Regions from separate parts of the Homo sapiens genome. Here all the other regions are linked to region 1. The links come from fine-mapping of genetic effects on gene expression. A gene starts in region 1. Each other region holds a variant in brackets. All regions are shown on one strand. Distances are from middle to middle. Region 1 holds the start of CCT6B (chaperonin containing TCP1 subunit 6B). Region 2 overlaps LOC105371742 (a long non-coding RNA gene). Region 3 overlaps LIG3 (DNA ligase 3). Region 4 has its middle 55 kb from the start of LINC01989. Region 5 overlaps LOC105371742 (a long non-coding RNA gene).

Evidence for each region. PIP is the estimated chance that this variant, and not a neighbour inherited with it, causes the effect.
Region 2: its variant is fine-mapped to the expression of CCT6B in whole blood (TOPMed, PIP above 0.99).
Region 3: its variant is fine-mapped to the expression of CCT6B in whole blood (TOPMed, PIP 0.96).
Region 4: its variant is fine-mapped to the expression of CCT6B in cerebellar hemisphere (GTEx, PIP 0.96).
Region 5: its variant is fine-mapped to the expression of CCT6B in monocytes after Pam3CSK4 (Quach 2016, PIP 0.95).

Annotation. Positions count from the first base shown.
Region 1 is chr17:34,957,957-34,964,448 of GRCh38, forward strand. It overlaps CCT6B (chaperonin containing TCP1 subunit 6B), which reads right to left and starts at 3,504. Exons shown (of 14, transcript NM_006584.4): 1 at 3,301-3,504; 2 at 1,631-1,694; 3 at 604-738. The coding sequence starts at 3,437. ZNF830 (zinc finger protein 830) reads left to right here and starts at 3,584. Exons shown (of 1, transcript NM_052857.4): 1 at 3,584-5,821. The coding sequence starts at 3,611. The coding sequence ends at 4,729. RefSeq lists a silencer at 3,034-3,328 and enhancers at 3,048-3,097, 3,198-3,417, 3,468-3,547, 3,628-3,877.
Region 2 is chr17:34,893,659-34,900,150 of GRCh38, forward strand. All of the region lies in intron 2 of LOC105371742 (a long non-coding RNA gene), which reads right to left. Among named protein-coding and RNA genes, the nearest start is that of CCT6B, 65 kb to the right of the region's middle. The variant T/G (reference allele first, on the strand shown) is at 3,654.
Region 3 is chr17:35,007,706-35,014,197 of GRCh38, forward strand. It overlaps LIG3 (DNA ligase 3), which reads left to right. Exons shown (of 20, transcript NM_013975.4): 20 at 1-2,038. It overlaps RFFL (ring finger and FYVE like domain containing E3 ubiquitin protein ligase), which reads right to left. Exons shown (of 7, transcript NM_001017368.2): 7 at 1-4,444. The coding sequence ends at 4,263. RAD51L3-RFFL (RAD51L3-RFFL readthrough) reads right to left here. Exons shown (of 7, transcript NR_037714.1): 7 at 1,407-4,444. Among named protein-coding and RNA genes, the nearest start is that of LIG3, 30 kb to the left of the region's middle. The variant C/T (reference allele first, on the strand shown) is at 3,723.
Region 4 is chr17:34,125,189-34,131,680 of GRCh38, forward strand. It overlaps a transcript of ASIC2 not described here. Among named protein-coding and RNA genes, the nearest start is that of LINC01989, 55 kb to the right of the region's middle. RefSeq lists a silencer at 3,226-3,345. The variant T/A (reference allele first, on the strand shown) is at 2,702.
Region 5 is chr17:34,867,433-34,873,924 of GRCh38, forward strand. The region is part of intron 2 of LOC105371742 (a long non-coding RNA gene); the gene reads right to left. Among named protein-coding and RNA genes, the nearest start is that of CCT6B, 91 kb to the right of the region's middle. The variant CCA/C (reference allele first, on the strand shown) is at 3,843.

The DNA.
Region 1 (6,492 bases):
TTTGGTTTCAACTTTATCTATGGTGTTTTCTTTCTTAATTACCCATGGATACATGGGTAATTTTTTACTTTTTTAGGTCCGTTAAATATTTCATTTTTAAAAGAGGTATATAATTCCAACGAAAGGCATTATTTTGGCCAACAAAGTTCATTATTATTTCCATTTATAATTGTCCAAGAATATCTTAATTAAAATTAACTGTCTAGACCAGGCACGGTGGCTCATGCCTGTAATCCCAGCACTCTGGGAGGCCCAGGCAGGTGGATCACCTGAGGTCAGGAGCTCAAGACCAGGCTGGCCATGATGGTGAAACCCTGTCTCTAAAAAAAATACAAACATTAGCCAGGCATGATGGCGCATGCCTGTAATCCCAGCTACTCGGGAAGCTGAAGCAGGAGAATTGATTGAACCTGGGAGGCGGAGGTTGCAGTGAGCCAAGATTCTGCCACTGCACTCCAGCCTGGGCGACACAGTGAGACTCCATCTCAAAATTAATTAATTAATTAATTAAAACAAAATTAACTGTCTAAAACTCAACCATTTTACTAGTTAAAAAAATAATTTGCCATTCAAAATAACATATAAACTGTGAAATTCTAATACCTCAGAAATGTACAGGTCAGCTTGTTTTAATAACTCTCCAATAATTAGAACATTTGAAGTAGTACCATCTCCTGTGACGTCATCCTGAGCTGTTGCTACTTTTGCTATCAAGGAAGCTGTTGGATGTTGAATTTGCTGGAAAAAGCAAGCAACAGATTTAAAAAGACAGGATGAGATAAGGAAGTAGGTCACCAAAAGCAAGATAACCTAGGGGTCAGTAGCAAAATTAAAAAATGAAATAAGCTTCATTCTACAAGTTTACAAGTTTTGTATTATCAATACCTAAATGTCAAGTCCAAAATTTTAAAAGTGACAGGTAATGAGGCCTGAACATTTCATAAAAGTCTTTGCTTCAGAATGCAATGACATTTCTAAAATAAGATTAAATCATTCAATCTCAAAATGAATACATGTATTAAACTTGCAAAGGATATTTTTATTTTTCCATAATTACAAAGAACATAAGGCAGTGCCCTTAAAAGATATTATTGATTTATAAGTATGCCTAAGTATACAAAGTATGTATAAGTATACAAAGACTTGGAAACAGCCAAAAAAAAAAACTTTTTTTTTTTTTTTTTTTGAGACAGGGTTTCACTCTGCCACTCAGGCTGGAGTGCAATGGCACAATCTCATTCACTGCAGCCTTGGCCTCCTGGGCTCAAGTGATCCTCTCACCTCAGCCTCCAGAGTAGCTGGGACTATAGGCGTATGTCACCACACTGAGCAAAATTTTTTTTTTTTTTTTTTTTTGTAGAGACGGTTTTCACCATGTTGCCCAGCCTGGTCTTGAACTCCTGGGCTCAAGCAATTTGGCCACCTCAGCCTCCCAAAGTGTTGGGATTACAGGAGTGAGCTACCACACCCGGCCAAAAAAATTTTTTTATTGAGGTCTAATTCAACAGTCTTCAGCATATCTCAAGACTGCAGTATTTAGCTCACAGCCTTGGCTTAAAGATACACAAGTTCTACTATGCTTCTAATTAAGGCTTATTAAGGTTTATTAAAGTCAGCAGCATCAGCTCACCATCTCATCGAGCAGCACATTGCCATCTTTGGTGAGTTTGATGTCACCTGCACCAGAAACAAGCCTGTTCAGAGAAGAATGATATTAACTTCATGTGGTAGGAAGACATTCCCAGTGCTTGCCACTCCATTATCCTTAATAGAGGGAACTGGGCTCGGAAAACTTCCACTGTACCATGGGAATATGCCATGGTAATTACCACCATTTGCAGCTCACAGAATCATTTCTCCCCAGATGGACAGATTATGGAGATTTCATTCCAAATGGACTATTTACAGGTTTAAAGATAAAAGCACTTGATGAGTTACGAACTGTGGTTTGGTCAAAGAATACTTGGAAGTCTACAAAGCACAAATTCGCAAATTTCCTGCAGGTTTTAATTTTGGTGAATGTTTTCATTCATTCAGTCACTCAACTTAGTTTCCCTCATCCCTGCATTTATTAGATCACCAAGTTCTATCAATTCTACTACCTAAATATCTCTTGAATCTGCCACCTTCTCTCCATCTCCACTGTTATCATCTCTACTTTGGATGGCATCCGGATATCTCCAAACTTAAATATACCCTCCACACATTTTTCTTTCTAAAAGGCAACGTGATTCAGTCAGTTCCCTGATCAAAAGTCCTCCAATGATTTTTATGTTTTCCATCATTTTCAAGTTAAAATCCAAACACAGCAATGACATACTTGACCTTTCCCAATATCTTCCCTGCCTCATCTACTTTTCCACAAGCAAATCTTCTGGTTCCCTTAATATACCATGTTTTGTTTCGTTTCTGTTGGATTTGCACCATTGGTCTTTCTTATTCCTGAAATTACTTTGCCCAGGCCTTTACTCCCTCTTCCAACTAGTGAAGTCTTATTCTTCTTTCAAGACTGATCAAACATGTTACTTAAGATGCTTTTCCTTCTGCCATCAGTCCCTTTCTTCAGCATAATTATATGCATCTATATATAATTAGCACATCCTACTCTACCACATCCGTCTCTACCACATCTCCTTAAGAACAGAAACCGTTATCTTGATCATTTCTGTGTCCCAACAACTGGTACCTAAGTGACTTATTTTACCATTAATATTATTTTGTTCATTACTATGAGGATGTGTCTCTCCTCTTATACCCTTTTGCCCTCACTGGTCTCTTTTCCTCACTCTTGTCTATAGAAAAGGGTGCTTAATATATACTGAAAAGATGAATAGATCTGAACAACCATAGACACGGGGTATTCAAGTAGAACTTGGATTTGACCCCATGCCTTCCTGGCTCCAAAGCCTGTGTCCTCTCCACTACAATACATTGCCATACAAAAAACAAAACTACTTGTTGAATTTATGGACCAAGGGTATACAGTCTTAAGGAGCAGAGGAGTTAAATGCTTTGTTTCCAATGAGACACTAAATTAACTGACTTTCTAACTGCATATGAACCTTGACGACAAGTCGGGGGTCGGGGAAGCGCCACAGCTTCACTCCCGGGGCCCTCTACTAGGGGAGGCTTTTCTCCTCCACCTGCACCAGGCGAGAAATACCCCCAGAGCAGGGATGAGAATGAGGGAAATCAAGCTCGCAAGAACATCCACAGCGCTACGCGGACGCCTGCCTCAGAGGGCGACAGGACACCAACGGGCCCCTAGCCGCGTAATGGCCGCTCCAACCGCTGTCTCACATTTTCATGGTGCCTTTAGGACCCAAGTTGGTCCGCAGCACATCCTGCAGCCCTCGGGCGGCGCATATATTGACAGCCAAAGCTGCCCGGGCCCGCGCCACCTCAGCCTTGGAGTTGACGGCCTTTATCGCAGCCATAGCCTAACCGTTCAGAGGGAGAAAAAAAAAAAGCCTTAGTCGCGATTCTGAGCAAAAACGGCAATGCGACGCCACGCTCTCTTGAGCCTCGGCCAATCATCGCCCTTACAGGAAGTGACGTTATCATGCCTCGCCCGACGGAAACCAGAATCGTTTTGGGTCTGGTCGCCAAGATGGCGTCCTCCGCCTCCGCCCGGACTCCGGCAGGGAAGCGAGTGATAAATCAGGAAGAATTGCGGCGGTTAATGAAGGAGAAGCAGCGTCTGAGCACCAGTCGGAAACGGATAGAATCTCCATTCGCGAAGTACAACCGTTTGGGGCAGCTGAGTTGTGCCCTGTGTAACACTCCGGTTAAGAGCGAGCTCCTGTGGCAGACTCACGTCCTGGGAAAGCAGCACCGAGAGAAAGTGGCCGAGCTGAAAGGCGCGAAGGAAGCCAGCCAGGGTTCGTCCGCCAGTTCAGCGCCTCATTCCGTCAAGAGGAAAGCGCCGGACGCAGACGACCAAGATGTCAAGAGAGCGAAGGCCACCTTGGTGCCTCAGGTACAGCCCTCCACATCTGCGTGGACCACCAACTTTGACAAAATAGGAAAGGAGTTCATTAGAGCGACTCCCAGTAAGCCTTCAGGACTCAGTTTACTCCCCGATTATGAAGATGAGGAGGAGGAGGAAGAGGAGGAGGAAGGAGATGGAGAAAGAAAAAGGGGGGACGCCAGCAAGCCGCTCTCCGACGCACAGGGCAAGGAGCACTCAGTTTCCTCTTCACGGGAGGTAACAAGTAGTGTGCTGCCAAACGATTTCTTTAGTACTAATCCTCCCAAGGCCCCCATAATTCCTCATTCAGGGTCAATTGAGAAAGCAGAAATACATGAAAAAGTGGTGGAAAGGAGAGAAAACACCGCGGAAGCGTTACCGGAAGGTTTTTTTGACGACCCTGAGGTAGATGCAAGAGTACGAAAGGTTGATGCTCCAAAAGATCAGATGGACAAAGAGTGGGACGAATTCCAAAAAGCCATGAGGCAGGTCAACACTATTTCCGAAGCCATAGTTGCCGAAGAGGATGAGGAGGGACGGTTGGACCGCCAGATTGGGGAGATCGATGAGCAGATAGAGTGTTACCGACGGGTGGAAAAGCTACGGAATCGCCAGGATGAAATAAAAAATAAACTTAAAGAAATCCTGACCATAAAAGAACTGCAGAAAAAGGAAGAAGAGAATGCTGACAGCGATGATGAGGGGGAACTACAGGATTTGTTGTCTCAGGATTGGAGGGTGAAAGGGGCATTGTTATAGGGTTTTAAAGACCCAAGGTTTCTAACAGCCTCTGCTGTTGTATAAAAAGTGCTGTCTCTCAGTAGTATAGCGGTTACTTCATGCCTCAAGATTTGGGTACCTGGATTGCTAAACTGGATTGTTGAGATAAAATGAGCCAGTGAGCTACAGCACTTTGGAAAATTTGTGTAACATGTTTTTGAGGTAAAGTTGTTTTTGAAATTTCTGAAGTGTTATATACCAAAATGCCAACATTTCCACGACAGACTTAACTGTATAATTTCGTTGTAAAATCTGTAAGTTGTAAATATTGTACATAGTTAAATCTGTATTCTGTTTTGAATTTTTTTAATTAATAGAAAGACCAACCGGCAAACTTTCAGATGAATGCTTACTGTGGTATTTGGAATGTATGTATCTTCTGAACCCTACATCAAGTTGAAAAGGTTTGTTTTCTTGTTTCTTTGGTTTTTGTATGGTTTTTTAGAACACTTCATAAACACATAAGTCATTGTAGGTTAATCAGTTCTCTTAGTGTGCTTTATTTTAAAAACATAAGAAAACTATATGCCAAACATGACCAAACCAATGATGGTCAGATGTGGTTGCACATGAGAGTCACCTATGAAGCATTAAAATAATTAAAGTGTCTGAGGCCTTCCCCTTCAATAAATCTGGGATTGGGCCCAGGCAACTGTGTTTTTTAAGCACCCAGGTTATTCTAATATATGCCAGGGTTAGAGAGTAACTGCCCTAAATCCAGAACCCATTTATGTTTTTCAGGTTTTTTCTTTTTCTTTAAATAACACATTCCATAAATTTGCTGTTTCTTGAATGAAGGAAAAAATATTATCTTTTATTTATTTCATCCAGCCTTAAATTTTGTTATTTGGTGGTAAATTAGGGTTCCTTGTTTGCAGGTCCTATCTATTGTAGAAAGAATATTTAAGTTGTCTTTCCAGCAGTAACAATTGGCTCTTGCTGGTCATTGATAGTTTAAATCACTCCTTCCTTTAGAGATTGAGGTACTCAAATAGGAAAAGGGAATTAGCAGTGTTCTGGAGTTGAAATGCATACAGCATATTCAAATAAAAGTGAGCAATAATAATAATAGCTAAGACCTATATATTTCTTAGTATGGGCCAGGCATGGTTCTAAGTGCTTTACATATATTAACTCAATCTAGTTTCCCTAAAGTCTTTTTTTATGGAGAGGAGTACCAAGAGACAAGGTTTGAAAAGCCTTGAATGCTAAGTGAAAATTTTTGATGAAGTTCATATGAAAATGGAGGTTTTGAGCAAAGAATTACATCTGCAAAGAAGTATCATGGGACATTATTAACAGTATATAGAATGGAATGAACACGGAGGGTAGAAGGAAGCTAGGAGCTATTTGAAAACTATATTTTCAAAAGCAAGGTGACAAGACTGATTAGCTGAGGATTGGGAGAAAAGGAATAGAAGTGAAAGCATGTCATAGGAATAGCTAAATTCTTTTGTTGTTTGTTTTTTTTGTTTGTTTGTTTTGAGACGGAGTCTCGGTCTGTCGCCCAGTCTGGAGTGCAGTGGCGGAAACTCGGCTCACTGCAAGCTCCACCTCCCAGGTTCACGCCGTTCTCCTGCTTCAGCCTCGCGAGTAGCCGGGACTACAGGCACCCGCCACCACGCCAAGCTAATTTTTTGTATTTTTTAGTAGAGACGGGGTTTCACCGTGTTAGCCAGGATGGTCTCAATCTCCCGACCTCGTGATCTGCCCACCTCGGCCTCCCAAAGTGCTGGGATTAC
Region 2 (6,492 bases), 64 kb before region 1:
GGAGCTTCAGGCCAAGGGCAGCAACGTGAAGAGCATGAGCATCTCCTTAACACAAATGTCTCTGCTTCCTTCAGCCCAAAGCCCCTTTTCCAGAAAGACCTTATGCCTACTGCTCTTTTTCTTAATTAGAAAGTGTCTGTAGCAAGGAGTGTGTGCCCACACCAACCAGGAAAACTGCTAACCAGCATTTAAAAGCTAGTTTGAGTGGGGACTGGAGTCCGCTCACTCCTTGCAAGCCAAGCCAGCCCAGGGGCTTGGCGAGGCAGTTTCTTCTCGGCTTTGCCCTGGGTTTGAATCCCAGCTCTACCACTTCCTCCCTGAGCCATCTCAGGGTCTCAGGGTTTCCTCATCTATAAAGGAAGGGAAATAATTCTTGCCTCATTTGGTGTTTGTAAAGATTGAAAGGGGACATCACTTCTGAAGGCTTTAACACAAAGCCAGGTACATACATATTCAAAAGCAAGTCCTTCTAGGGATGGACTTGACTGAGTTCCAAACTCATCTCAGCCAACTCATGCAGTGATTCTTGGATCGTGTATAAAGCTCCCGACACACAGTAGGTCTGTGCAGAGTAAGAATGATCAGTAACCAGATACCACCAATGAATTGTTAGCCAGCTGAGGGATTTCGTGCTGGGCCCTCCAATATTCAGGTTCCCCCATCCAACAGTCAAACTCTTCATAACTTAGAGCTCTGGATTCCAGGTCAAAGCTCCTGATCCTTCATTAGAAGAAGCAGCGAGAAGATGTCCCCACAGATTGATGATGGGGGTCACTGGTGCACACAGTGTAGTGTAAACAAGTCAGCTCTCTGCATCTCAGACGCCTCACCAGAGTGTTGGGCTCACTGCAGACTCCAGCTCTGGGACCCCTTGCATCAACCACGCTAAATCTGTCTGCTTGAGTCCAGGAACCACTAAACAGACGGGAAGCATGGACTTCTTCCTGGCTCTGTGGGGGACTCCAAGAGTTGGCCTGCCCTTGACTTGGAGCCCCCATATCTACAGGAGTCAGGCTATGCATGGGGGCCTGGACTCCTTTTTAGGAAGAACCACGGGGCTCAGTTCAACAGGGTCATTCACATTTAGGACAGAGAAGACAAGGGGCTGGCTAGGGTCAAAGAGTGAGTCACTAGGGACAAACTTGAAACCAGATTTCAAGCCTGCTGAGTCCTAGGCTGGGGTACTGTCCCTGCATGCAGCTTTGTCCTGAGGCCAGGAATGGTTTCACCAAGCCAGGGAACCCTTGACAGAACAGTACTTAGTGCTGAAGCATACAAGTAGACCTGAGTTCAAATCCCCAATCTCCCACTTCCAGGCTAAGGCGCCTCAGACAAACTGATTTATTCTCTGAGCCTGTTTGTTTTATCTGTAAAAGAGGGTATGATAGCTTACCTCCCAGGGTGGCTAGGAGGATTCAGAGAGCTATTGGAGATGAGTTATGTAAAACGATGTAGCAAGTTCCCGGCACGTGACAAGCATGCACTATGGAGAAACAGTCATCATGGCCACCCCTCTGTGAGCTATCTTCTTATACACACACACACACACACACAAACACACACACATGCACACACACACCCACTCACACACACAACACATACTGAAAATATTACTAAAAGGGAAGAAAATTAAAATCTCAAGACAACAATCTGGGACTTTGTTCCATCCCTGCATACTTCTGGTCTCTATGGCACTGGATGAGGGGAGAAGGGAAGGGGGAAGAGAAGAAGAACAGAACCCTTAAGGGCACAGGAATTCACCCAGAAGTGAACAAGAAAAGGGACTGGGTTTCCCACTGCAGTCCTGCTTCACCTCTTCCAACTGGCCCCTGCTGGTCACCTAGCAACAAGCATCTCTCCCGAATCCTTCATAAATCACCAAGAGTACCAGCTGCTCTCGCCTAGAGATCCACACCTCACACATCCCCCGGGGTCGTCTCCCAGGGCCAGAACCATGGACAGCACTGGTGAGAGCCTCAATCACAAGGTACTCAGGTGTTCAGATGACTGGGCATTCTGTGTGGAGAGGAGGGCCAGCGGGCTTGGGCTGGGCAGGACCAGGGCAAAGGAGTGGGGCCACAACTCTGCCCTGAGAAGCAAAAAGGGATAAAGGCCACTCTGAACCATCCAGACAGGGTTCAGAGTTGTCTGAGATCACTTTTCAGAAGGCACAGCTGTAAGAACCCAGAGTTCTTTAATCCCAGGGACTAATGGCTTGGGGAAAGCCAGGGTCAAGCAGAGAAAAGAATTGGAGAGGAATCAGTGGCTGATCCTGAACTGTGTGCTGAACATTTCATACATGTCATTTCAATCTTAAAACCCTGTAAGGTTTTCAGGACTGTGAGCCCCATTTTACCAACACAGCAGTTGAAACCCATGGAAGAGACGTCCTTTGCCCATGGTCAGAGAGAAATTGCAGCAGCCAGCCCTGGGATTGGACTTCAGATCTGACCCCAGCACACTGTAATTTCAGGGTTGGTGCCAGAAGTCCATAAGACAGAGCCTGCTCAAAGACAGGACTTAGCAGAGAGCCTGGCACCCAGAGGGCCATTGCCACATGAAAAACACCTCATGGACCAGCGCACACAGCAGTCGGCTCAGCTCCTTTCCATCCTCCTCCCAAGACTTCAGGATCTTGCCTCTGCTTCTCAGTAGCCCTGGGCTCTGGGCTGCCTGGTGAGTCATTGGGCCCCTCCAAGGGTGCCCCCAGGACCCAGGGTCTCTGACAGGCCATGAGACACACTCGGTCTACCCCATGAGGCCTCCATGCTGCTCTGGAAGCCCTGAGCTCCCTCTGAGTGCCATGGGCTCTTTATGACTGATCCAGTGCTCTTCCAAGTGGTGGGGCTCTGCACACAGCTGGCAGCGCAGCTGACAGCTCCACAGAAAGGCAGCGATGGGAACGGAAGTATTCCTTAAATTCCTGCCCCTTACCGAGGTGGCTAGCACAGCAGGATGGGTGCAGGACATGGGGTGGCCTACCAGCATGGAGGCTTCCTGCCCAAGACAGCTGGGACCTGGGTTGCAGGGTCTGCCCAAGCTCCCCCAATTTGCAGCCCTCATAGCTCTTCCTGCTTCATCTGTCCACTGCTTCACAGTCCCTGTGGTCTGGCTTGCAGCCCCCTAAACATGCCTGCCTCTTTCCCACCTTCATGTCATCCCTTGTCTTAGCTCTTATCCCCTTCCCCATCAACCTGGAATGCCTGCTCCACCTTTCTTCCTCTAATTCAGCAGCGCTCAGTGCTGGCTGCACAGCAGAATTACCAGCAGAGATTCCAATTTGATAGGTCTGGGTGGCCCCAGGCATCAGGTTTTTTGGAAGCCCCCAGGTGGATTCTACCAAACAAACTTGAGAACCTCTGGTGGAAGAGCTGCTTCTTATGATACCTCAGCTCAGAGGTCACCTCTTCTAGGAAGCTTTCACTAGCCATCATCTCATCACTTAGAAAACCAGCCTCAGCTATATGCCCTTCTTCTGGGCTCCCAGGGCCCCTAGTACCTCCAAACATCAAAGTCCTTATCACACCTTGTTACAAGTGTGTCTTGCAAAGACTGTGAGCAACTCCAGAGCCAGGACTGTGTTTGTTCATTTCTGTATCCCTAGCACCCAGCACAGGACCTGCTACGAAATAGCAAATTGATGAATGAATGAA[T/G]GAAGGAACCAAGGTGCTAGTGTTCCGCCCACTGATGTCTCTTCTCCTTCCTCAAATAAGTCTCCAAGATTGCTAAGATGTCCAAAGTCCCTCATCACAGTCCGGCTTCCCAGCCTTTGCCTATGCAGGATCAGAGGCCTGGGGTGCCCCCAACATCAACCTGGGACCTCTCAGATTGCTCTAATTGCTCCAGCAAGCCCCCAAGATTAACCACACAGACCCCAACAATTCTCCTTGATTCAGAATCCCCTGGTCACTTTCCCTCCACACTTTCCCCTACACCTGGTCTTGGAGGATCAGACAGGACTGACCTCACAGGTTAGACTTAGGAGCAAACCTGGGTAAGAGCCTTGAGTTCCTGCACCAATTTCCTGTGTGATCACAGGCCAGTCACTTAACCTCTCTGTGCCTCAGAGTTTCCATGCACAAAACAGGGGAAATAATAGTACCCTCCTCACAGAGTTGTTGTAAGGGTCAAATGAGTTGATAGATCTAAAGCCCTAAAGTAGTGCCGGGTACAGAGTAAGAGCTATTACCGAAGTGTCTACTCCCTGCTCTTATCTACCAACTGGGAGAAGGTCAACCACTGGGCTTGAGCCTTTCCAGCCTGACACATTATTTTACTCCATCCTCTGGCCCAAGTCCCCACCCATGGGCAAGGCCCCCAGAAAGGGACAGTGACAGGCTCTGGGTCTGAGTCTGGTGATGTTTCTGTGAACACGGCCGTATGCCCAGGCCACCACCCAGCCATGACCAGGGCTGAAGGATAGTCCCAAAGGACAGATCTCAGAAGTCAGACCCTCCCCACCAGGACTGGGAGAGGAGCCTTTTTCAGCCCCTCAGTTGTTTTTCCCGCTCACTTTCAGCCCCTCTTTCCACTCAATGAAGCCCAGTTTGATTCCCTCCACTCTCTCCCCCCTCCCCTTAAACAGACAGGAGCATCAAAGCACAAAAAACACTGAAATTGCCAAATGCAGTTTCTCTCCAGAGACGACAAATTTGCTGCAATTTGTATTTCCAAACAGGAGCTGCAGCTCCTGAGCTGCTCCCAGGCAGGCTCCCCACCCCTCACCGACCATCTCCTCCTGAGCATGGCACTCCTCCTCCCCTCCTCTTCCCTCTACCGCTGCAGAAGAGGGGGCACTCACCCCATCTTCGCCTAGGGTCTGGGGTGCTACAGTGGGGAGGAATTAAAGCAAGGGTGGGAGAGAGAAAACAGAAACAGCCACATCTGTCTGCCAACATCAGGCAGAGCACCCATAAGGAGTCCTTGAACCAGCTTCCAAGCCTAGCTCTGCCTGTAATTAACAATAAAAAGAACAGAGCCCGCCTCACTTTGCAAGCTATGCCCATCTCATCATTTAGAACACCTCACTCCTTGCACCACCCTAAGATTTAGGTGGTCTTCCCCCCATTTTACCTGAGGGGGGATGTGGGACTGGATCAAAGTCATGCAGTTACTAGGATATGAGGTTGACCTCTAGCCTCCCTGACCCCCAAGCTCAGATTCTCCCCAATCCCACCCCATGACCTTGGGCACCTCTTCAGATCTCAGTTTTCTCATGTGCATGTGCAAATTGAAGAGATTGGACCAGTGTTCACTAATTTTTTTTTAATCTATGCCCCTTAAACAGGGTATGATGTTAATTTTATCTGTCAACTTGACTGAGCCACAGGGTCCCCATATACTTGATCAAATGTTATTCTGGGTGCTTTTGTGAGGGCATTTTTGGATGAGATTAACATTTAAACCAGTGGAATGGGTAAAGCGACTGCCCTCCCCTGTGTGAGTGGGCCTCATGCAATCTGTTGAAGGCCTGAATTGAACAGAAAGGCTGACCCTCACTGAAGTAAGGAGAGAGAATCCCTCCTGTCTGACTGCCTTTGAATCGGGACATGGGCTATTTTCTGCCTTCGGAATTCAGGGAAATATTGGCTCTTCCTGGGTCTCAAGCCTGCAGGTCTTTAGACAGGAACTACACCATTGGCTCTCCTGGTTCTCAGACCTTCAGACTTGTACTAGAATTCCACCTTTTGGCTCTCCCAGATCCTCAGTTTTCAAATTCACTCTGAAGATCATGGGACTTGCCTCCATAATTGTGTAGGCCAATTCCTTATAATAAATGTATACAAACACACACACACACGCACATCTGATTGGCTGTACTCCTCTGGAGAACCCTGACCAATACACAGGGACAACATCCAAATCTCATACCCCTTCTATGATCTGTATTATGAAAAACATACAGGGTTTTTGTTTATTTGTCTTCCAAAGGGAAGATTCCTTTCCAATCATTGTTAACATTGAATGTGCTTCGCCATGTGCTGAATCCTCCTTGCCGCAGGAGAGTCAGATGTGCCCCAGTGTCGGGGCAGGGTCTCCAGCGCTCAGCCCACCCCACCACACCTGTTGAGAAGCTCTGGGCTCAGTCTCCTGGGGGCTGTTGTTGCTCACATTCTGTGAAAGGCAGCAGAGCCTAGGAGCACTCCCTCCACAGCAAGAGCCTGGGCAAGGCACTTCTCTCCAAACCTCAATCTCAACCATGGGAATAATAATAGTTCCTGGTGGTGTTGTGAGGATTCAATGTGCAAATACCTGTAACACACTGAGGATGCTGCAGGAAGTGCTCAAGAAATGTTCGTTGTCATTATATTCTATGGAGTTTTAATCCCTTGAGGAGTCATCATTTGCCTGCCCCCTCCCAACCACACCCCCCACCCCCACTCATCCCAGGAAACTCCTGGAGCTACTGCCGTCCCCTTCGCTGGGTCCTGGGAAATCACTTTGTGGACATGTCTGATTACTGCAGCCTCTGAATGATAGGGATCATCCAGG
Region 3 (6,492 bases), 50 kb after region 1:
CACAGCAGTCTGTCACGAGGCTGGGCCAACCTTTTTTTTTTTTTTAAACAGACTCTTGCTCTGTCATTCAGGCTGGAGTGCAGTGGTGCAATCTCAGCTCACTGCAACCTCTGCTTCCCGGGTTCACAAGCAATTCTCATGCCTCAGCCTCCCAAGTGGCTAAGACTTAACAAACAGGCACACACCATCACTCGCAGCTAAGTTTTTGTATTTTTAGTAGAGACCACGTTTCGCCATGTTGTCCAGACTGGTCTCAAACTCCTGGCCTCGAGTCATCCACGCACCTCAGCCTCCCAAAGTGCTGGGATTACAGGCGTGAGCCATGGCGCCCAGCCTGGGCCAACCTTTTCTGAGCCATAGTCCAGCTGTACTACAGCTGTATCCAAAAGGTACCATGTATCTCCCAGGGTAACCTGAAGACCTAACTGGGCATACTAACTGTCCTCAGATTTCAGTTCTTTAAGGCCCATCTCTTCTAGATCAGTGTAAATATCTGAACTCACTTGGTGCTTCAACCCAATTGGTCTTGGGATTCATCCTTTACCTACCCAGCTCTCATTCTCTTCTAGGTTGTTCCATGGCCTCTTCCATATATTACATTTGTGGTCTTGAGCAAGTTAGTTAGTTACAACAACACTGAGCATCTTGACCAAGGTCACTTGGCCCAACCACAGGCTAATCCCAGGCCATGTGCACATCCCAGGATTAGCTTGTGGTTTATCAGTTGTCAATTTTTTTTTTTTTTTAATACAGGGTCTCACTCTGTCACCCTGGCTGGAGTGCGGTGGCGATCAGAGCTCACTGCAGCTTCAATCTCCTGGCTCAAGTGATCCTCCCACCTCAGCCTTCCAAGTAGTTGGGACTACCCACATGCACCACCATGCACGGCTAATTTTTTGGTTTTTTTGGGTTTTTTGTTTGTGTTTTTTTTTGTTTTGTTTTTTGAGACAGAGTCTCGCTCTTTCGCCCAGGCCGGACTGCAGTGGCGCAATCTTGGCTCACTGCAAGCTCCGCCTCCCGGGTTCACACCATTCTCCTGCCTCAGCCTCCCGAGTAGCTGGGACTACAGGCACCCGCCACCACGCCTGGCTAATTTTTTGTATTTTTAGTAGAGACGGGGTTTCACCGTGTTAGCCAGGGTGGTCTCGATCTCCTGACCTCGTGATCTGCCCGCCTCAGCCTCCCAAAGTGCTGGGATTACAGGCGTGAGCCACCGCACCCGGCCCTTGTTTGTTTTTTTAAGTAGAGACAAGGTCTCACTACATTGCCCAGGTTGGTCTCAAACTCCTGAGCTCAAGCAGTCTTCCCACCTTGGCCTCCTAAAGTGTGGAAATTATAGCATGAACCACTGTCAGGCTCTTTTGTCAGTCCTATCAACCTCTAACATCCTCGCACCAGACAGGACAGGTGTCTGTATTGAAACTTTATTACAAAATTATAAAGCAGAGCTCTGTAACAAAATAATACACATTTGGGTTTGCTTTAACCTCCAAGTAAGTCTGAGAAAATCTTAATAAAAGCCACTTGAAGTAACAATTCACATCCAAGAGATTTCCACAAATTTATACAATGTATATTGAGCACTAGTTCCTGTACAGCTTATTCTTATTAGTTTGGATCCAACTATTCCAATGTATTATGAACCAGTCAGCTATCTGTCTTTTGAAACAAGTCTTAACTGAAATCTCAGAGTAATCAGCAAAAGCTACGGAATAATTCTAAGAATTAGATGTTTCCATATCATTAAAACCAAGGATCCATGAGGGGCAGAAGGGAGGATTCAAAGATTTAAAAAAAATCAAATTTTAGACCTTGGTTAAATATTAACTGGAATGGGATCTTGGAACTCCCAACTTTAATTTGGTGTAATAAAAATGATGCAAAAAAAAAAAAAATCAGGGTTGTTTGACACCTTTTTTCCTAAAGGGAAACCTTCACCAAAAGGGGATAAAAGATTTAAAGGCAAAATGAGTAAACAACCTCAGTTTTAATTCTTACTGAGGTTACTAACCAGCTATCAGTATATTATTTTCGATTTGTGTCTAGGAGGGAAACTGAAGAGGAGGTAAGGCTTCAGCAGAGAAAGCAGGTTGTAAGTAGAGAGCCAGCTTCTGCCCTTAAGTTACTGCTAGATCTTAGCTGAATTGCACATACATAGACCTGTTTTACAGAGGAACTGAGTAGCTGAATGAATGATCCTTTGCTAATTGGTAGGCATTGTAAACTATAGTATTTACTGCCCATGACAAAAGTGGAAAGGGATGTCTTCATGAGCAAATCTGATTCCCCCAACTCCTGCAAAGGCTGTGGTTCAGAATCAAATCATCCAGGACTTTGTATAACATTGAGGTAAGTGGCCCAGTGTTCAGTTGACTAGTTTATGCAGTTATTTCATTCCTCCAAAGGGGTTTAGTGGTTGGTGATGGAAGAAAGCATAAATATGTCTGTACCAATGTAATAAGTCCCTTTAGAGGTTTCCCTCTGCCATCCAGAGTCATGATTGGTTCTAGTCTCAGATTTTTCAGCTGCATGGGAGGGGTAAGGGGTGGGAGGTGTCTGCCAAGGCGTTTAGGGTTTGCATAGTTCATCCATTGGTAATGGGAAAACACTCTGCTTTCCTGATCATGTGTTTTGTGCTTGGCCACGCTTCTGCAGCAAACTCTTAAGTCCTCCAGCTCCTCTAGGGGTGTAAAGACTGTGAGGGCTCAAATACATCACCTACTCATTGCATGGTCCTTCCTAAAGAGCCTAGAAAATGGTTTCTCCTGCTGGGTGTGGTGGCTCACGCCTGTAATCCCAGCACTTTGGGAAGCTGAGGCGGGCGGATCATAAGGTCAAGAGTTCAAGACCAGCCTGGTGAACATGGTAAAACCCCGTCTCTACTAAAAATACAAAAATTAGCCTGGTGTGGTGGTGGGCGCCTATAATCCCAGCTACTCTGGAGGCTAAGGCAGGAGAATAGCTTGAACCTGGGAGGTGGAGGTTGCAGTAAGCCAAGACTGTACCACTGCACTCCAGCCTGGGCAACAGAGTGAGACTCAAAAAAAAAAAAAAAATGCTTTCTCCCTGACCTGCCCCCAAAAATCAGTGGGCTAGGAAAGGGAATGAAAGTAGGGTCTCCTCACTCCCCACCAACCTGGGAAATAAAGACTTGAACTGTCGGCTTACAACAGAATCCAGTCTCATTCAGTACCTCCTGAAAGCTCTTAAGTGCTCTGTCTTAACATTTGCTCTCCAGGAACTTCAACAGCAGTCTGGCCAGAGAAGAGCACAGGCTCTTTGCCTAAATCTATTTCTTCAATGAAACCAAATTTAAAACTACCATGGATAAGGGAGGGATTTCATTTTCAGCGAAAAGTGGCTTAAGACTTCTAGTTGGGAAAAGGATCAGAAGCCAAGCCAAAATTAAGGAGAAGGCCACTGCCTCCACCCATTGCTTCCCCTTTCCGCATAAACTAAGGATGGTGCAAATCAGGTCCCAAGAGAAGCAGCAGCAGGGATTATGCACGCACTATCCCTTGCAGACAGAAACAAATTTCCCAGCAGTTTGGGAGCCTGATGTTTTGTTGGCTCCCAGAGTCAGGTCAGGAGACCAACAGCTTCCAATCCCAGCATTTAATGAAGTGGCTTTTAACAACTTTGAAATTTTTCTATAGCATTTGTATTTCATTTCTCACCAAAGATAAGTTTACTGGTCTAAAATCTGTCCTAAGGACCACTAT[C/T]GGTCTGGTAAACTAACATTTTTGGTCCAAAGAAACAAATGGATTTAGGCAATGTAGCAAGAGACTTTAGCAAAGATAGTTAAAGCACAGAAAGCCGGAGAGACCAGAAATTTAAATCCGAATGTGCTGGGGAGGAGGACTTCTGATTGATGAAACACATGGGCAAGCATCTCCCATATGGGGTGGGGATGGGTTGGGTACAGGAGGAGGGGTGAAACTGTCTAGGTTCAGGGAGGAAGACAGGACCCAAGTTCTGGAAAGTTCTCTGTTCATCAGTTACCATCATCACTCCAAGATCACTGAACCAAGAACATACCCATGTGATTTATACAAGTTCCCACTGGCCTTGGGCTTTGCCAGCCAAGAGGTACACCCCTGGGAAGACAGGCATGCTCAGGGGTGACATGGCATCTTGCTTGACCTGGTTTTGGGAACCCTGCAATATTTCTACTAGCTTGCTCCTCTGCAAGCTGGCCAACCCTGAGCCCAGACACCCCAGGCTATTTCCCTGTAAGGCACTGAAGAAACCGATGCAAGCTCTCAGGACCGGAAGACATGCACAGCTCGGATTACATACTGCCGGCAGATGGGACATTCATTCATGCGCTTGCCACACTTGGTACAGGTTACCATGTGGCCACACTCCAGAAGAACACAGTCAATGGGTGAGTCCATGCAGATCTTACACAGGTTCTCCTCCAAGCCTGATGGTACTGCTCCCCCTGTACAAACACACAGGGCAGAAAAAAAGGGGCAGAGGAGTGAGGAGAATGTCTTAAGTGTATAGGGGTGACTGGGGGAGGGAGGTGGGAGATAACAGGTACATTGTAAACAAAGTCTCAGTGCACATGCTTCCCTCAAATAGAGCTCCTCCGAGGAAACATTTCCTCAATAACCAACTCTGGTTACTTGTTTAATCCACACTTCATCCCCTCCAACAGGTAAAGATTTGAAAAGTACACAGCACTTGTGGATCAGACACATCCCAGAACATGAGAACTAAGGCAAAGTTCTCAAAGCTTAAAAGAAATAATTTTCAGACTGTTGGGGCTGTAATATAGTGAGTGTGTGAGTGGCACGTAGGGACTCATTATCCCCTGAGGCAGAACAGGCTAAAAAGATAAAACTGGTTCAGAAAAGTTTAGATAGAAATGGAACTGTGATGAATGGTTCATTAAGGATCACAAGGCTTTATCTATAAACATATCCTCCATTTAATAAAGTCAGGGATCATGGGGGACCCCTCTGCTATCTCACAAACTACTCCCAGGTTTCCTGAGGAAACTTCCTGGTGGAGAAACTTGGCAGAGATTACTGCTCCCTCTTTCTACCCCCACAAAACTTTTTTATACCCCCATGACTGCTTATCACATTGGATTAAAATTTTGAGTTTGCCTACTTACTCCCAGAGTAGACTATGAGCTCTTTAATTCAACATATTCAATCAATTTTTACAATTATATGCTTAGCATTTATTCCATGCTCCAAGGTTAGATATTCATCTTTGAAGCCCCCAATGCCAGTTATATGGTAGGTACTCTAAATGTCTGATGAATGAACATCTTCCCAAGGGAATGACAACATCCCACATTTACTGAATGCTTACCGTGTGCCAGGCAGGGTCCTGAAAGCTTTGCATGTGTTAACTCACTGAAGCCTCACAAAAACTATAAAGTAGGACCTCTTGTTATTTTCATTTTATAGATGAGGCCAACTGGGGCAAAAAAGTTAAGTGGCTTGCCCAAGGGCACAAAGCTGCTAAGTCGAGGAGCCAGGATTCAAACCCAGGCAGGCTGGCCCCACAGCTCCTGCTCTAGAATGGCCTTCTGCCTAACTGCCCTAAGAGTAGAAACTATCCAGACAGTATCAACTGCTGAGTGCACAGGGTTCTCAATAAATGCTAACTGGCTTGTGTCACTAGCAGAATATAGTGGGCATGACCAGTATCCTAGTAGAGCTGACCCAAACAGAAAAAATAATGTTCAAAAGCCCAGCCATCTCCAATATGTCTTAAATTGTAGCCTGAAGTAGGTACCCATAAAAAGGAACTGATCTCACAGAAGTCACCTCTACCATCTGGGGGTTGGCCAACCCATAGAGGAATTCTCCCTTATTGCATCTATACTTTCTCTTTTCTGGACTATTAAAAAGTCAAGAAATACTTCCCCCTAGGAGGTAGGCTGGGTGTGAAAGGGAGTGAAACCCATTTGCCTCTTTTGAGGTGCTGTTGGTCCTAACAGAGGTTTGGAGACTATACAAATACCTAAGATGAATGGGAATAATTTATAATTTTCAGTTACTCATTCTCTCAGAAGTAACAACAAACACATTAACTCAGTTGTCAGCATTCTCCCAGGGAATCAGAAAAAGAAAGGAAGCACCAAGTAGATCAGCCTGATCTTGGTACCGGTGATGCTGGGGGGTTGGAGGGTGGAGGTGGGTCTAGAACTCCAAATGGTTTTGGGGAATTGAGAAAAGCTCAACTGTTTTTTATGTCTGATTAGAAGTAATCAGACATAAAATTGCCCATTCTGAGCAAAAGGCCATTTTACTAAATAAATTTGGGAAATCTTCTGAAATAAGTTTTAAAATGCTGCAGGCTAGTCCAACACTACTCTTAGAACGTTCTCTCTTGGAAGGGAGTTCACAACCATATACCCTTGAGGCTTTTGAAAACACATAGCATATTTTAGAATGTCCCCACAGATGGTCAGGAGTTCTGCAGTGTGTTCTGGGAGTACCTGAGGGCCCAGTGGTGGTCTTTAAGTGA
Region 4 (6,492 bases), 830 kb before region 1:
CACTGTATGCCCAGTGTCTGCCCCCCGCTTCACAGGCCAGCATCCGCTGAAATGGCCAGGCCTTGTCATTAGTTTATCCCAGGCACCCAGCACAGGTCCTGGCACACAATGTGTATACGTGTGCGCATGTGTGTGTGGTTTATATTGTTTTTATTTCTAATTAACTTGGGTGCAGATGATGAAACATCATAATCTTGATCAGAAGACAACTGAAGGTCTTAATGCAGTCTTGGGGACAGCACCAATTCCACAGAACCCACTCTAGCCAGTGTAATCAGAAAAGTAATTTGTTAGAGGATGTTAGGTAGCTCATGGAATCTCCAGGAGACCAGAGAACCAGTCTCAGAAGGGAATAGACTGAAACGATACCCAAATGACAGTGCCAGACTGTCCCATGGGATCTCTGTGGCTACCATCTCTGGGCTGGAGCACTTCAGATCCTCTCAGTGTATTTTAATAAATGAGTAAGACGATCTGTAGGAATGATTCCTATCTTATAAAGGAGGAAGTTGAGGTGTAACATGATTATATGAATTGCCCACAGCCCCACAAGTAGTAGGTTGTGGGATTGTGTTCTCATGCCTAGATGTCTCCACAATACCACAGCCGCTAAGACATGGTTTGCGGGTGAGCTGGAGCTTCTGAAACTGAGGATCCAGGTACGAGCTCAGATACCAAATCCTGAGCTCCAGAGAGCAGCCAGAGGGCAGGGAGGTAACTGTGGAACACAGGAGGCCATGCCCCCCATCCACGTCACTCCCCTTGGTCACACGGCTATCCCACATGTCACAGCCTCCACTGGAGCGGAGTGGGACTGTGGACTAAGCTTTCTGCTCAATGAAGTGTGAATGCAAGTAAAGTGGGTTACCTTGGGTAGGCACATTCAAGAGCTGGTGTGTCTCCTCCCCTCATCTCATGGCAAGACATAGAGGACCCAGTGGAGGACTGAAGGCTCCAGGGGAAGACAGAGCCATTATACAGGAAGAGGCTTGGCCCTGAGCTGTCATGAGGAGGACTGCCTATCAAAGCCTTGATTGGATTGTGATGTAAGCAGAAAGGAAGTTTATTGTGACTAAAGGCTACACCAGTGAGACTTAGGCATCATCTGTGACAGTTATTAGCCCACTCCACTGCCTCATACTCAAAACCAAGCAGCCAAGCCTCATTATCCCACAGCCTGGGGTGGTGGAGGAAAGTACGGAATAAATAAAGCACCCCAGAGGTGAGATCTATGCCTGCTTTTCCCAGACTCCACCAGCCTGCCTTTCCTGCATGGGGCTGTTTAGCCTCAGCCTTCTGAACATGCCAAGGACCTCAGTCCTGTACGGCAACATCAGGGAGAACACTGAGAGATGTTCCCTCTTCTCCACTTCTCTCTCAGCCTCCCTAGGGAGTTGGCTGATCCATTACCTCTCATCCACTGTCAGGACAGAGCTACCAACTCTTGGTCAGCAGTACCACCGGCCTGCTGCTTAGAGCACAGATGAGGTTCTCTGACTCTGAACGAAGAGGCAAGGCAGGCACAGGCAGGGGATGGAGGTGGATGGGACCACACAGTCTTCTCACAATTTAGTGGGCACATGAGTCACCTGGGGACCTTGTTAAGCTGCAGATTCCGTTTCTGCAGAGCTGAGCGGGGCCTGAGGCGCTGCATTTCTACCCAGCTTCCAGGTGATGCTGATGCTGCTAGTGCGTGAACCATGTGCTGAGTAGCCCGGGCACGTCCCTGGAAAATACACATCCCTGACAGGGAGCACAAGCCTCTTCCCAGATTATTCCACCCTCCAACTCAGGACAGAGGGGTGCCCTTGAAGAGTGTCTAAGAAATTAAGGTGGGAGGGCCCATGGATAAGCAATGAAGCAGTCTGCCTGTAGGCTCCCAGTAAGCGTTTGCATTTGGCAGAATCCACAGCTGCAGGTAACAGTCACACAACTCAAATCAGCTTCAGTAAGAGGGGGTTTGTTTTTCGTTATGAGTAAGTTTTCTATGTGAAAGGCCAGGGGGTCAAAGGAGGCAGTATGAGCATCGGGGCTTTTCAAACTAGAAATGAGGACTTCCTATCACAAGATCTGGGTCTGCCTCTGCATCTCCCTGCCTCCCTGCCTTGCCCAGTCTGTCTCTAACTCTCATGATTGCTGATCTCTCCTTAGCTTCATTCTGAACTCTATAAAGCAAAAAACAAGATGGTCTTGGGTTTACCCTCCATCTATGACATTCTAGAATTTGTTCTGAGTCCGTAAAACACCAGGCTCCAGACAATGTGGCCCCCACAGCCAGAGTTTCAATTTAGTTGTGGATGCATCCCCTTTCTCTTCCCAGACCATCAGCCTCTTCCCATTTCCAAACCAGTCATGCAGCAATCAATTTTTCTCTACGTATAGGTAGCAGAATCGAGAGGGAAGGCATGGAGTGCAGGGACCCCTCTTCTCAGCCTGGACACACACTCTCTCCCTCAGTGGGGCAGCTGGGGGCTTCAGCTCCCCTGCTCTTCCTGCTGCAGGACGGATGCAACAGCTCCAGGGAGGAGTCCGATGCCACCTGAGCCCTCCACAAGAAGGGAGGGCTGAACTCAAGAATACAAGAAACTGTCCCATGCAAGGAAAAGAATATGATAAAAGAGGAGGCTGTACAAAGAGCAAATTCAGGGATCCCTGGACTGGCACTGGCTCAGAGCCAACCTGGCTTTCTCTATGCTGAGCA[T/A]CCCGGGCCTTGGGCAAAGGAGACTGGGCCTGCTAGATCCATGTGTGAGCTCTACCTTATTCTAGCTGTGTGACTGTGGGGAAGTTACTCAACCTCCCTGAATCTCAGAGAGGCAAGGAGAGCACACTGACAGCCACAAATATATAATGATGATGATACCACATCCCACGGGTGCCTAACACCTTGTACAATCTTAATAAATGTTTGAGAAAAGGAGAATGAAGAAAAGAAGGAGGTAGAGGATGAGAAAAAGGGAATCAAATGGGGAGTAAAAGGCCCAGGTCATGGGTGTGAATAACTAACACATCAGAAGCTGTGAGGGTTTATTGGGTAAAGGGAGGCAAAGTAGTCTTATCAAAGTGGCCCGTGGGATTCCACTCTGCCACACCTTGTCCCTATTGAGAAGTTCAGCTCACTGAATTCCCAGGGACCCCAGGTGCAGGGAGCCTCATAGGACCTGGCAAAGCAGGTGAAGCTGTTCTTGTAATGCATCAAGGGAACCATGAACCTCCCTGGTCCCACTGTGCCTGCCTTGGGCCACCCGCTGCAGTGTGGTTCACTTTCCCCTGCAAACCACACTTATTCAATGTGATAGTAGAGGAGGAGGGGCCTGTTTATGTCACTGCATGACCTGAGGGATGTCACTTAACTTCCAAGAGCCTCAGTTTCCTCATCCTTTCAGTGGAGAAGGGAAAAAGTCCCTGCTCTGCCTACCCCACATTTATGGGAGTAGTTCTAGCACTAGAACTGTGCGCTAGATAAGCAAGTTATTATTGTTACTGCCTCCAGCACTCTCTTTAAATGAAGCATTTCTTGATGCCGTGTTACTACATGCAAAAAAGTCAGCATTGGCTTTTTTCCCCTTTTCTACAGAAAGTTTGGGGCTGGAGGAAGAATGAGGTTGTGTCAGCAGAGGGGGTAGTCTCGGTCTAGCTCAGCTCCAGCTGCACATCAGAGCCTCCTGGGGAGCTTTAAAAGTTGCCAGATGCCCCAGCGCCACCATCAGAAATTCTGATTTAATCCACCTGTGGTTGGGGTTTCGGCTAGTTATTTTTCATATCAACAAGTGGTTTCTTATATTGAGAACTCCTGGGCTCCACAGCAGAGGGAGTGAACATGAATACACCGAAGGAAGAGAACACTCTAAAGATCAGTGTGCAGAGTGATGCCTGACCCCCTACCCTCGAGAGCACGGGCTCATGAACTATGAGAATAAAAAGCGTATGAATCTAGTTTTTAATAGCTTACATCTACTAAATACCTATTACACGTCAAGCACTATGCTTAGCATGTGATGTCCTTTATCCCATTTAATCCTCACAACAGCCTAATGAGGTGGGGACTAGGATCACCCCACGTACAGGTGTGGAAACTGGCAGAGATGACTTTATATGGTGGAACCAGCATCCAAGCCCCACTCTGCCTCACTCTGAGGCCAAACTCTCCACTTGTACAGCATAACAAGCCTTGGAATACAATTTCTTTTCCTGTAAAATGTAAGAATTCTGGGGAATTATTGTCTGTCAGAATCAACTTTGGGAATCCTGGTAGGACATGACCGCATTTGATATACACACACATACCACAGGGTAGGAACCTCTTCCACACTCTTAAAGGGCCATGTCCCATGTTATACCTGGAACTAATAATTCCCAAAATTATTCTCTAGAGTGTTAAAAGGTTCTTGGCTAAGAATAAACATCACTGCCTATAGTACCCCCTCATGGAGACTCACAGTACCTGTCAACCACAGCAAAGGTGATGGATGAGAAGTCCTGCCCTGAGGAAATCTAAGTAGTTCTATTTCACCAAGATCTTTCTCAAGCTTCTTTGTCTACAGAAGCCTTTTATAATGGAATACCTAAAACAGGGCATACTAGTAGCTGCTTCCAATCTTCTTGGATCCCCAGATCAAAGCTTCCTTAAAATCTAGAAGACGGGGCATCCTATTATCAATGAACCAAGTACAGAACAAAGGCTAAAGCTATTGTCACCCTCCAGACATACCATGTCCTGCCTCTCAAGGGGGTCCACTGAGCTGGGAGGGATGCACCTGAACCAGCAAGGAGCTGGCCCAGTGGAGCAGGAAGTACTGTCATCCAACAGCCAGGTGAGTCCAATTAGAGAACGATAAAGCCACCATGGAAACTTGCACCTTGCCATTTACTTTAAGGCTATTGCTCTGCACTCTTCAGGCTATCTGTGGGGTTTAGGAGTTAATATTCATTTGCACATCATGAAAGGACTAAATTAGAGACATGAAGAAAGACAGAATGCTCTGACTGAGCCTGTCACACACTTTTCAAGGCGAGATCATTAGAGGCAGTCACTGCCACCCATGACTTCACCCAGCAAAGCTCCTTAAACCCTTACCCTGTGCAGGCTCCAAAGATAATGCAGTGAATCAGATTCAACCACTGCTTTCCAGGTGCTGAAATCAGATTCAACTACTGCTTTCCTCCTCATGGCTTACGAGGAGATGCAACAGTTATGATTTTGAATCCGTATAAATGGGGATATGGGCAAGGGCTCAAAGGAGCCTGGAGAACACAGAACCTATATCTAACTAGTCCCAGTGCAACACACATTTACTGGACATCATCTATGTCCCAGGTGTTGTCTGGACACACAGGGAAAGAGACAAGAAAGATATAGTCCCTGTTGAAAGACAAAGGTGTCTTTGGTCTTATAAGCTTCAATGCCCACACCTTTCCTCAAACAGAGTAAAGCATTTCCTCTTCCAAACTCTGGAATTCCCTTCCATGATGCTTCTCACACCATAATGAATCTGTTAGGATGCGTTTTCCCATCTGGGCAGCAAGCTCCCCAAGGGCTGGGCCCTGCATTACCCATGTTTGCATAACTAGTGCATCCCTTAGCAACTGCCTAGAAGAGAGCAGATGCTCAACAAATGCTTTTTGAAATGAAAAGATGGGTTTCAGGGGAAGGGAAGCTTATACATGAAATTATTATACGGCCACTCTGATGCCTGCCCTTAGGTAAAAAGCACCAAGGCATTTATTCAATGGACAGAGAACAAGTATTTAAGGAATGAGTACAGCGAGTAGGGAGAGATCGAGAAAGCCTTCGCGGAAAAAGCTGCATTGGAGATGGACATTAGCAGATGAGCAGACTTTCAACAAACCAATGCTAAGGGAGAGAAAAAGGAGGAATTCTGAGAATGAATAGTAGGAACAAAGCTGAGGGGCCAGTGGGGAAAGAAAGCCTTCGGGAAAGAGTGAATTGTATATTACGGCAGAGTTAGGCTTTGCACCATGAAGAATTGGAAACTGAGCCTCGAAATGCAGATTGGCAAGACAATAGAGAGCCATTGATGGACTGGGACAAAGTAGTGACATATTGAGAGCTGTGTTTCAGACAGGGCCATTTGGTCATGGGAATAATGGGGATGGAAGAGAGAGAGGAGCTGGGGAGGAATCAATTAGAAATAACCATTCTGAGTAGGCCATTGTATTCCCTAAATAAACTGCCAGCCCCCCAAGCTCCACTGCCTAGGCCCCAGAAGAGTCATTTTGGCATCAGGATAGCTCCCTTCCTTTGGCCATCAGGACCTATAAATAGCCACATAAAGGTTTCTGCCCCCAGCTCAGCCACAGAGGCTCCAGGGCTGAGCTGTCACCCTCCAGGACCTGAGCAAAGCCAGCCCTGACTTACCCCTGCCTGGGCACGCAACCATTCCTGGGGGGAAGCCAGCTTGTGGTCTGCTGACAGCAGGGACATCTTCCTGAGCCTAAACCCTGTCCACAAATGCTCTAGAGATATTTCACACT
Region 5 (6,492 bases), 91 kb before region 1:
CCATGAAGATATAGCATTTGTCACTGTTTCATTAGGAGCCACGGTGCCCCATGTTATTTATGAGTTTGCTATTTATTGAAAATTGTATTTTTGAGGGGGATAAAGGGGGAGCTGAAGTTTATCACAAAGAAGCCTTGGCAAGAAAATTAGTGACATTTCAAAGTATCCAAATCTCTGCTCCTGTAAAGACTGAATGAGTTCACAGCCACCAGATTTCAAAGCATTACTGGAAGTCCTGTTCCAGGTGGGGGGCTGACTAGGGGCTCTTTGATGCCTTGATTGTCCTTAGGAAAAGATGATGGTTTTATAATCTCCTCCTAGATCTGGCCTGCATCCCTTTTTCTTTAAAAAAAAACAAAGTCTGTTTTTATTCAAAGTCATATATGCACAAGGTTAAAAACAGTTTCCTGTTAAAATACTTCTTACTCCCTGTTCTGTCCCCCCTAGACAGCCACATCTAACTTTTTTAAATGTCTTTTCTTATATTTACCTCCATTTTTCTAAATAATATGCTTCTACTGATATTTCTTGATTCATCAATTTTAGACACAATCTATTGACTTACTGCTAGAATAGACAAGGATTTATCTCACTCACACCACCTCCATCCCTCCTGCCATATCTCTATTTTTAGTTCTTCTATTGGTTACTTTTGTGATCTTCCATCCTCTACAGATGCACTTTTTAAAGAGAATTTGTACATTGTACAAAAAGAATATTTCTACCCCCATCCTTCCCTTCACCTCACCTCTCCCACTTCTACCTCCTAATGCTGTCTGTCATCTACACTTCTACTTTTACACTGTAAAAACTGATAATATCTACATCTACTCTGTAACCACAATAGTTCTTTCAGATTGATTCCAAGAGTTGAAAATCACTGAAAAGTATTTCTATTATTGTGCCTAGGTAAAGACTGTTCACTACAGAGCCAAGTAGTGTACTATAATCACAGTTTCATTTCAGATACAAATGTGTATGTGTGTGTTTATACGTTTTGAGTTGTCTTTCTTTATTCTTTAGTCCTAATTGTCTTTGTCACATTTCCAATTTTTTAAAAGTCTTTATAAAGCCCATTCTACCGAGTTCCCCTTTTATTTAGGGACCACCACCACCCCTGCCTGCTGGAGCACTCAGTTCTCTTGCTTCAATCTGGACTGGTTGTTCTTTATGCTTGTGCACAGCTCTTCTGATTTCTATGTATAGCTTTTTGCATTCCCAGTCTTCCCCTATTTTGTTTACTCCCTTACTTATTAAAAGACATCCTCAAGTTGCTTCCTTAAAAAGGATTTATGGGAGACAGTCTATGGGTTCTTGCAATTTGAATAATGGGTTGGTGGGATGTAGAAAGCTTAGGTTGAAAATCATTTCTTTCAGAATGTGAAAGTGTCTGATGTTGTTGATGACAGTCTGGTGCAGGTCTGATTCTTGTTCCTCTGAAAGTGACCTGGCTTCCTTCTTGGAAATCTTTAGAATATTCTCTTCTCCTGTGGCTCTTTTGACTCACAATGATGTGTGAATTGGTGTGGGCTCTTTTCATTTATTGTGTTGGATGCTTAAGGGGCCCTTTATTTCTTATTTTAAGCTGGAACTTACAGGTAGTTTTGTAGCTATTGTAACAAATTTTGTAACATATTATAAACTACACAAATACATATCAAGATATAAACATTTCCAGGACCCCAATGAGTCCCTTTATGTCTCCTCCTAGTTGATAACTTTCCAAGAGTAGCCATTGTTCTGACCTCTATGACCATAGATTAGTTTTTCCTTTTTTGAGTTTCATCTAAATGGACTTTTACAGTATGTATTCTTTTTTTGTTTGACTTCTTTTGCCTAACATTTCTCTGACATTCACCCATATTGTTCCATGTAGAGGTTTTTAGTTCTTTTTCATTACTGCATAATATTTTGTTGTGTGTACAATTTCTTTAAACAAAGTTGATGGACATTTGGAATTGTCCCAAGTTTTTTAAAAACTATGTTTAGGGGGTAAAATTGCAGGCCTCTTGCATACATATGTTATGTTGTGGTGAAGTTTGAGCTTTTTGTGTACCCATCACCCAAATAGTGAACATTGTACCCAATATGTAATTTTTCAACCCTCATCTCCCTCCCATCCTTTCACCTTCTATATTTTATCCAATGTCTGTTATGCCACCCTGTATGTCCACGTGTACCCATTGTTTAGTTCCCCCTTGTAAGTGAGAGCATGCAGTATTTGACTTTCTGTTTCTGAATTATTTCACTTAGTGAAATTGTCCCCAGTTTTGAGCTATTATAAACAGTGCTTCTACAACATTCTTGTACATGTCTTTTGGTGGAAATAAGTATTCATTTCACTTGAGTGTATATCTATAGATAGAATGGTTGGATCACAGGGTAAGCATATATTTAGCTTTTGTAGATCCTGCCAAACAGCTTTTCAAAGTGATTGTACAAACCTAAACTACCACCAACAATGTTTGAGAGTTTCAGTTGCTCCACATTCTTGCCAGTATTTTCAGACCTTTATTTTTGCAATTCTAGTAGGGATGTAATGGTATTTAATTGTGGTTTTAATTAGCATTTCCATGATGACTAATAATATTGAGCACTTTTTAATATGTTTATTGACCACTCTGTATTTCTTTTATTGACTTTCGTTGTAAAGTGCCTATTCAAATCCTTTGTTTATCTTAAAAGTAAAAATTTCTTCCTTTATGAATGAATTTATGTGGTTTCCTTATAGACTGTAGATACAATTCCTTTTTTGGATATATGTGAATAATATGTGTGTGTGTGTGTGTGTGTGTGTGTGTGTGTGTGTATACACATATACCTAAAAAAGGAATTTGATATATATCCTATATATATCAAATTCATAATACATATCAAGATATAAGCATTTCCAGGACCCCAGTGAGTCCCTTCATATCTCCTCCCAGTTGATAACTTTAAAAAAGTAGCCACTTGGGAAATTACCTCATATATATATATGTATATAAAATCAAATATTTTTCCATTTTTGGCTTGCCTTTTCACTATCTTAATATGGTCTCTTACTGAAGAGGAGTTCTTGATTTTAACAGGGTTGGCCGGGTGCGGTGGCTCATGCCTATAATCCCAGCACTTTGGGAGGCTGAGGCGGGTGGATCACTTGAGATCAGGAGTTCAAGACCAGCCTGGCCAACATGGTGAAACCCTGTCCTTACTAAAAATACACAAATTAGCAGGGCATAGTGGCACACGTCTGTAATCTCAGCTACTCAGGAGGCAAAAGAATCGCTTGAACCTGGGAGGCAGAGGTTGCAGTGAGCCAAGATCATGCCACTGCACTCCAGCCTGGGTGACAGGGCAACTCTGTCTCAAAACAAAACAAAACAAAACAAAAATTAATAGGGTCTTATTTAATGATATTTTCTTTTATAATTAATGGGTTTTCTAATTCTGTTTAAGAAGCCTTTGCCCATCTCAAAGACATGAAGCAATTCTTCTGGGGGGTGGGGCAGGTTTCCTTTGGAAACTTTATTGCTTTACTTTTTGCATTTATGTCTATGATCCATCCTGAATTAATTTTTGTGTATAGTATGATATCAGAACTAAGATTCATTTCTTTTTCACATGGATCTCCAATTGGCCCAGTCTTGACAGACCCTTTCAGTGTGTAGATTCAGGTTATTCCACGTAGGCAATTATTTGTATTGTTTTTTAATAATCTTTACCCCTTTGTTTTCTCTGTTTTGGAGTTCCTATTATTCTGATGTTAGAATTCTTGGAATATTCCTCTGGGTCTCTTTTCAACACACACACACATACACACACACACACATATTCTCTCTGTCTCTTTCTCTCTACCCTCT[CCA/C]CACACACACACACACACACACACATATGCCCTGTGTGAAAACAGGACCCTGAAACTCCCTCTCTGTACTAGATACTACTATGGGGAAATAAAGGAATTGGTGCAGTGTTATTCCCTCATATCCATGACTCCCTCCTGCCATACCCACACTTACCACTGTAGCTGATAAATGAGATGGGGGGAAAATGGCTGGGGGAGAGGGAAGGTGAATGATAAGAAGGACAGGCCCAAGAGCTGTGTCCTGGACCAGAATTGTGGGATAGAGTTAAAACCAATAAAACTAGCATCTTTGCACCAAAGCCTCCCACCTCAACCCCCAGCTCAGCCCTGTGTCTTCTCAATGCCTCCTGGGAGCAAAATAATGTAAAATATCCTTCCAAGTAGCTAATCTGCACTACAAAGAGAAGTTGAGGGGAAAGACTTAGGCTACAGGGAAGGATTCAAATTGAAAATGCTCAGGGGGGCCCAATAATAAAGACAATAATTCAGCTCCTTACTGAGCAAACCCAGAACAAAGAGGAGAAATTGCCGAGCTCCTACCTGAGTGGGATGGAGGGACAGGGAGCAGTGAAACGGACAGGTTGGCAGACAGGACTTGAACCACAAATGCCCCTTTGAGTTTCTCTGGAGAAACTTAGAGGTCTGTAGTTTTAATAAACCCTGTTATGGGGCCAAAACCAAACTTTGCCCTGGCTGCTTAAGGCTCCCAAGTGGAGCTGTAAATATTCCTGCCACAGGGTAAGCTTGACCAGAGTCCTGGATTCAGTGGGAGTCTTCCTGCACCTCCAAGATTTGCCCGTCCAAAGAAAGGAGTGGGCACTAACGTTGGAATCAACAGTTACACGTCAGGAAGTATGCTAGCTACTCTGTTCCTTATTGCATACAATCTCCAATGGCCCAGTGATAATGGTAATAATAAAATAGTGAGCACTTACTGAGAGCTCATTATATACTAGAGGCTGTGCTTTATCTCATTGTCCCTCACAACAAAACTGAGAGGTAGAACCTATTAATAACCCCCACTTTTCCTTGGCAACAGCTTTGTGAAGATACAATTCACATACTGCAGAATTCGCCCAGTGAAGTGCACAATTTGATGGTTTTTATTCTATTCACAGAGTTGTGTGACTTATCGCCACAATTTTAGAACATTTACATCACGCCAAGAAAGAAACTCCTCTCCCCTTTAGTTATCATTTCACCCCAATCCTCTCATCCACCCAGCTCTAGACAACCACAAATCTACTTTCTATCTCAGTAGATTTTCCTATTCTGCACATTTCACGTAAGTGGAATTATACAATATGTGGTCTTTTGCAACTGGCTTCTTTCACTCAGCATTAAGTTTTCAGGGTTCAACCATGTTATAGTATATATTAGTACTTCATGCTTTTTATGGCCAAATAATATTCCATTGTATGGATATACCACATTTTGCTTACCCATTTCATAGCTGATGGACATTTGGGTTGTTTCTATCTTTTGACTATTGTGAATAAATGCTGCTGTGAATGTTTGTGTACACATTTTTGTGTAGATGTATGTTTTCATTATTTTGTGGGTATATTCGTAGGAGCAGAATTGCTGGGTCATATGGAAACTCTGCGTTTAACTTTTGAGGAACTTCCAGACAAAATGGCTCACCACTTTATATTCTCCTATAGTGCATGAGGGTTCCAATTGCTCCACATTCTCCTCAACACTTGTTATTATCTATCTTTTTTATATAGTCATCCCACCAGATATAAAGTGATAAAGTGGTATCTCATTGTGGTTTTGATTTGCATTTCCGTAAGGGGAATGATATTAAGCATCTTTTCATTTGCTTATTGGCCATCTGTGTGCCTTATTTGAAGAAGTGTCTATTAAGATTCTCTGCTCTTTTCTTTCTTCTTTTGAGACAAGGTCTCACTCTGTTGCCCAGGCTGGAGTGCAATAGCACAATATCGGCTCACTTCAACCTCCACCTACCAGGTTCAAGAGATTCTTCTGCCTCAGCCTGCCAAGTGGCTGAGATTACAGGCACGTGCCACTGTGCCTGGCTAATTTTTGTATTTTTAGTAGAGACAGGGTTTCACCATGTTGGCCAAGCTGGTCTTGAACTCCTGACCTCAGGTTATCTGCCTGCCTCGGCCTCCTAAAATGCTGGGATTACAGGTGTCAGCCACTATGCCCAGCCATTTGCCCATTTTTAAATTGAGTTATTTGTCCCTTTATTATTGAGTTGCAAGAGTTCTTTATATATTCTAAATACAAGTTCTTTATCAGATATATGATTTAAAATATTTTCTCCCATTCAGTGGGTTATTTTTTCACTTCCTTGCTAGTATCTTATGAAGCACAAAAGTTTTAATTTTGATGAAGTCCAATGTATCTATTTTTTCTTTTGTTATTTGTAATAACCCCATTTTATATATGAAAAAAGTGAGGCAGAGCAATTTAGCAACTTGCCTGAGAACATATAATAATAATGGACAGAGCCAAGATTCAAACCCAGGTCTGCAGACCCCAAAGCTTCCTTTGAGGGCATGGAGAAGTCCCCATGAGCAAGGACTGTGTTTCCTGTGATCACGACTGAACTTCTCCTTACTAGGAGCCCCAAGCCCTGGGGAAATGTCCACCACTGCCTGTGTGCATGGGGGTCAGGA